Regions from separate parts of the Homo sapiens genome. Here region 2 is reported to be linked to region 1. Evidence: microRNA targets listed by miRTarBase, many of them from high-throughput screens and not tested one by one. Region 1 holds a microRNA gene; the other region holds the end of a gene's coding sequence.
What was found. The annotated mature microRNA hsa-miR-5680 reads GAGAAAUGCUGGACUAAUCUGC and lies in region 1 at 1,239-1,260, shown strand. An mRNA with a match to its seed (bases 2 to 7 or 8) in the 3' UTR can be bound and repressed. Matches are read on the target gene's strand: a 7mer-m8 pairs with bases 2 to 8, a 7mer-A1 pairs with bases 2 to 7 and ends in A, and an 8mer does both.

Region 2: miRTarBase lists MLLT10 as a target of hsa-miR-5680. Seed matches in the 3' UTR shown: 7mer-m8 at 1,812-1,818 and 7mer-A1 at 1,893-1,899.

The regions. Positions count from the first base shown.
Region 1 is chr8:102,124,245-102,127,396 of GRCh38, forward strand. MIR5680 (microRNA 5680) reads left to right here and starts at 1,188; the gene lies at 1,188-1,271. It also overlaps a transcript of NCALD not described here. RefSeq lists a silencer at 33-92.
Region 2 is chr10:21,741,478-21,744,477 of GRCh38, forward strand. MLLT10 (MLLT10 histone lysine methyltransferase DOT1L cofactor) reads left to right here. Exons shown (of 23, transcript NM_001195626.3): 23 at 462-2,153. The coding sequence ends at 506. All of the region lies in intron 1 of LOC107984214 (a long non-coding RNA gene), which reads right to left. Among named protein-coding and RNA genes, the nearest start is that of MLLT10, 210 kb to the left of the region's middle.

The DNA of each region.
Region 1 (3,152 bases):
CCGCTCCCAGCGTCTGTGTCGCTTCGGGCGAGGCGGCGGCAGCAGCGGCAGCGCCTTCCCTCCGCCCGCCTCCCCCTGGACAGCACCGTCGCCAGCCGCGCCCCCCTCCCCAGCCTGGCTCGCCGCCTCCCTCCTCGCGGCCGCAGACCCCCTCTCCACTGCAGCCCCGCAGGCAGCCTCTCCGGCGTGGGCTTCACCGCGGGGTTGCAGGGGGGCCAAGATGAGGCGCGGGATTTGCAGGTGCAGTGGACGCCCCCCCCCTCCCCCGCTTGCCCTGGTGCAGCCTCCGGGCGTGTCCCCACGGTGCCCCATAGTCCTAGCTCACCGCCCAGGCCTCTAGCCAGCCTGCACTGCTACTTTCCAAGGGGTGCCATCTGCTTGCCTCCTCGGGTCCTGGGAGGTCAGATTCAGCCTAGAGCACCTCCTTCCAAGCTTCGATTTGAGGGGGGGTCTGGGGTCCCTGCTCTACCGCAGTGAAGTTCAAGGGAGCCTTGGAAGGCAGTTGAAAAGCTTCTCAGGTGGTGTCCTCTGGACTCTTCATGCCCACAAGGTGGGAGGGGGGCTGCTTTTGTCTAACTAGTGCTTTCTCTACCCAAAGCCTTCTGTAAACTGTCTAGGAAAAGCTTAACAAAAAATCCGGAGGAAGACATCTAAGGGGCCCCTCTCCTGCCCCTCCTTCCTCCCCTCAAATTTTTCATCTCGTGTGGAGATAATGAGAAGCAAAATGTCTTGTCAATTCATTCACCCAATATTTATCGAGTACCTGCTGGCTGCCAGCACCTGTTTCCTGTCTTGCTGTGTCGTCCACTCATGGCCTCTCAAAAAGCCACTGTAACTAACTCCTTGTGCTTGTCAACCCTGGTGACATTTCCAGAACCCGCAGAAGGTCTCAAGAGCAACTCAAATTCATCAATTTAAAAAGTTGCTGCTTAAAAATAACAAGGCTGCAAAGGCACCGTGACCTGGCCTTCCTCGTTGTAATGTTTGCAAAATCTTTTAACATGACTGGTTATAGAAAGGACAGTTACATTGAGGTCCAGACAGCTGCCAACTCTGATTTAAACACCAAGTAAAAGTTTCATCTAATCAAAAGCACCCTTTCCTAGCTCTACCGGTTGCCTTCAATTGTAAAACAAAAATTATCTAGGAGGCTGTTAAACCATCATCAAATACTAAAACCTTTGCTTGCATTGGGTTAGCAGGTTAGCCCAGCATTTCCCTTCCTGGACACACAGGAGGAGAAATGCTGGACTAATCTGCTAATCCAATGCAAGCAAAAATTTGCATTGGAAAGTTGGATTTTTTGGTTTTTGGTTTTTTCTTTTTTCTTAATACTAGGCCCGACCCCGAGAGAATCTAATCTAATTGTTAAAAAAAAAAAAAATCCGGGGTTCAGGGGTGTCCAGCTTTGTATGGGTATTTTTTTCACATGGGCCCCAGGAGACTCTGATGTGTGGCCAGGGTTGGAAACCACCATAGGATTAGCCAATCATCAAGCAGGGCCTAAGGGAACGTCCCGTTGATACAGCAAAAGGTCTGCACAGGTGTTGCAAACTCAAATGTCCCTGAAGGATAAAAGCAGGTGACAAAGAAGTAACTTAAGTGGTTATACAGGGACAAACTGAGAAGGGCACAATGGCCCTGAAAAAGGCAGCCTCATTTTTCTACGTGGGAAAAGAGGGTCCAGTGTGGCCATCAAGTCGGGGTATTTTATTTTATTTTGGTTTGGTTCCCCCTGCCCCCAAGAGAAGCCAGAAGTTCACGTTTAATGTGAACTCTTCTAATTTAAAAATATTAGTAACTTATTTTTTAAATATTTTAAAAAATTTTAAATATTTTTTAAATATTTCTCTATAAGCCAAGAAAATAAGAATTTGTAGGCCACAAGTGGTCCCCTGGTCATCGGTTCGTCACCTGTAGTCTGGACAGATTCTGTGCATAGGAAGCAGTTAGGAAGGTGCTTGGGGTGGGATTCCTCAGAGAGAGAGGTGATTTTAAAGTCCACTTTATCTACTTTTCTTTATTGATGTGATTTTTCTTTAATGATCTCTACTGTTAAAAAAAAAACAGTTTTGCTGAGGTATAATTCACACATCATACTATTCACTCAAAATATGCAATTTAATATTTTTTGCATATGCAGTTAGTTGTACAAACTATTACCATAGCCAATTTTAGAACTGATTTTCATCACCCCATAAAGAAATCCCACACCTATTAGCACTCATTCCCTTCTTTCCCCAACCCCCAACTTCCAGTGACCACTTATCTATTTTCTCTCTATGTAGATTTGCCAATTCTGGACATTTTATATAAATGGAATCATACAATTTGAGGACTTTGTGACTGGCTTCTTTCACTCAGCTTAATGTTATCAAGGCTGTCTCATGTTGTAGCATGCATCAGTACTTTGTTCCTCTTTATGAACAAACGATGTCATTGTATAGCTCTATCACATTTTGATTATCCATTTATCAGTTGACAGACATTTAGGTTGTTTCACTTTTTTACTATTGTGGATAATGCTACTATGAACATTTCTGTTCGAGTTTTTGTGTGGATGTACATTTTCATTTTTCTTGGGTATATATATAAATTGCCAGATCACATGGTAACTCCACGTTGAACATTTTGAGAAATTGCCATACCTTTTCCCAAACCAGCTGCACCATTCTACATTCCCACCAGCACTATATGAAGGTTCCAGATTTCTTCCATATCCTCGCCAACACTTGTTATTTGCCACTGAAAAAATCATACCATCCTAGTGGAGGTACAATGGTATCTCTTTTTTTAAATTTTTCTTTAAGTTCTGGGATACATGTGCAGAATGTGCAGGTTTGTTACATAGGTATACATGTGCCATGGTGGTTTGCTGCACCCATCAACCCATCATCTAGGTTTTAAGCCCCACATGCATTAGGTATTTGTCCTAATGCTCTCCATCCCCTTGCTCCCCAACCCCCACAACCGACAGGCCCTGGTGTGTGTTGTTCCCTCCCTGTGTCCGTGTGTTCCATGTGTTCTCATAGAGTGGTATCTTATAACATTTGATTTCCATTTTCCTAATGGCTCATGGTGTTGGTCATCTTCATGTGTGTATTGGCCATAACTTCTTCAGAGAAATGTCTATTCAGATCCTTTGCCCATTT
Region 2 (3,000 bases), not on the chromosome of region 1:
TACAGTGACATTTGTGATTTCAGTCTTTAATAATAGGCTGTAACTCCATTTTTTTTATAGATTAGTAAAAGGAAACGCAAAGAAAGCCCAAGGACAAATAGCAAATGTGGAATCACAGCCGATGACTTTCTTAGCCCATAAAAATTTCATTCTCTACAGTACCATGTTACTTCTGTGGAAAAGTTGATTTTGGAAGATGAATTCTGCATTCATTCTTTACAAGTTCTGTCCCTCAGATGGGCCCACCTCTTTGGTCTTTTTATACTGTTGAATTTAATGTTTTTAAAGTATTTACTAGTAAATTCATGTCTATATATTACGTTGCAAGTAGCCTTGCCAACTTGCAAGAAAAAAGGGAGTAACTTTCTATACCACATTTTATCTCAGTCACAGTTTCAAATTCGGAGAATATTATCAAAAGTTGATTTAGCTAACGCATCTGCTCTTTTGTTTACCTGCAGAGACTTAGTGATAAAACTGGGCCTGTAGCTCAAGAGAAAAGTTGACACCTGAGAAACATCTAGAAATTGCCTATCCTGCTGTTCTAGCACTTCATCTGGCTGCCTTTGCAGTCCTTTTACTACAGCTATGAAGAAACGCAACAAGAAACTCAATGCACAACAAAGGATTAATTGCTGCAAGGACATTCTTGTAAGGCTTTGATTAGTTTTCTTGTTGCTTTGTTGCACTGAAATGGAATTCCCATGCCCCTACCCCTTACCCCAGTTTTTTGAACATGGAAAGAAAATTTAATAACTTTTTAAAGTGACATAATTTACATGCAATATGTTTATCAACTCAAGAATTTAATATAGTTGGTACACAACTAGTTTTGTTTATAAATTGGAGATGCAAATAGCAAAACTAAATACTTGCTCCATTTACAAACTACTTGATTTTATTGTACAAGTTGAAATATGCTCTTTTGTTTGGGTTACAGTATGCTTGCTCTAAGTCAAATTCCAAGGAACTAATTTCTTCTCCTGGAGTTGCATTGATTCAGTATTACAAATATATAGCACATCACCTGGGACTTGGCAATCTTTGTTAAAAAAAAATTTCCTTTCTAATGGGATTTGGCCAATTTTGGTAATGAAGTTAGGATGGTAATGTCTGCATCTGCTAAAGGTAATTTTCTTTTGAGAATTGCTTTCTTTAGTGTTAAGACCTACTCATATTTTGAAGAAATCTTGAGTTAAGTGAGTTCTGAGGCTGCTGGGGGAACCAGATCAATTCAAAGCTAAATACTTCTTTCAGAAAGGGGCCACTGTGGAAAGTGCTGGTGGGGTTTGCCCTTGATCAAGTGCCTCCATTGTGCTGCAAGGGCTGTAGACAGCAGGGTGGGACAGTCAGTCCTCCGAGCAGCAGGAATCATCCCGTCACCTGCAGCCTTCCCATGCTTCCGCCTTTATTCAGAACTTTCTGTGCCACTGTAGATAGCTCAGGCAAAACTATTACCTGGGTATTTATCCACTAATGAGTCACAAGAAAAGGAGTGGATTTGGTAAGAATAGAGATTTGTTTTATTTAAACCACTTCCCATTACTGACCATTAAAAGCTCACCACTAGAGTTCCTGAAACAGGTGAAACCTGTATGACAGCCCTTCCACTTTGGGGAGCCACGCTTTTGATGTGACAGTACCGCAGAGTGATTCCCCCACTGAGGATGTCATCATCAAACTCTTCTTTGGTGTGTGAATTATTAGTGGAAAAGACCCAGCTGTAATTAGACCTCCACTGTGTACTTAGCTGGAAGAACATGTTAATTCTGCAATATGTTTCTTGGTTAAACATTGCACAGTTCTTACCTCATTTCTGTAAATAAAGTTTTGTGAATCTGTTTTGTATTGTGACAAATTCATAAGATAACATTGATATTTTGATTTGTAATATTTCTAATTGGTAGATTTAATTGAAAAGTAAAATTAATTTATTTTTATATGTTCAGGGGAATTTTAAAGTCAAATCTTTTGTAGATAATTTAAAAAATCAGTGTGGTTTATTTTACTTATTTAACCCACTGGTTGTTATTCTGTAACAGTTTGTATAAATGGTAAATTTTGAATGTGTTGTTATTTTACCTAGATGTAAAATTCCACATGTATTAAAATGTACAAAATGTTTTGTTAATAAAATTTAATAATGTTTATAACTCCGTGCCATTCTCATTTGGAGAGGATGGAGGGGGTGCACCCATGTTGCTTCCTCAGGGAGTCTTGGCCTGTGTTTTGTGTTTGGAGCACTGGTATATTGCCCCGGAGTTAATGGAAACTCTCATGAGCAAATGCTATACGATGTGCAAAGCATTCTGTAAAGCACTGTGCGGTACAAACCCACCTCGGGCTCAGAGATCTTGGATCATCCTCAGATGAGACGGAGAGAGAAGAGGGAAACAGCCTTGGTGGAGATAAAAGGAAAACAAAGTCCTTTTAGATGAGATAATTAGAGCCCGTTGATAAAGCAGTACTCACACTTGGTAGAGAGAGATTCTTCTTCTTTATACAGTTAGCTTTAACTAGAGGCATATCCATGAAAGAGAAGCCCAATCTACTTAGTGGTCTTGGGGTCTTGGTAAGCATCAGAATCACCTGTGGTGCTTTTCAAAAATATAAATGCTCAGACTTTTTATCCCAGACTTAATTGAATCAGAACATACTGATCTGTGTCAAGTGCTCCTGGTAATTAAGAGGCACATGAACAAGAAAAACTGGTCCTAGGCTATAAACTTTATTAAGGAGTGAGTTTTGGGTTCCTGGAGAGATTTTTTTTATGCACATGAAAAATAATTACGACTCTAGAAAGTCGTCTCTTCTCCCAAGGCGAAGGATTACCTTCCCTCTAGAATGACAGGTGACTCATCCATCAACTCCTGCGAGTTTAATTCCTCAACATGTGTCCTTTGCCTTAGCTGCATGTTTGTAAGTGTCCGCTTCTGTAGCTCTCTGGCTTCCTGGAGGCTCCGGGACGTCGACCTCGTCATCCTGGGTTGCTGCCCTGCA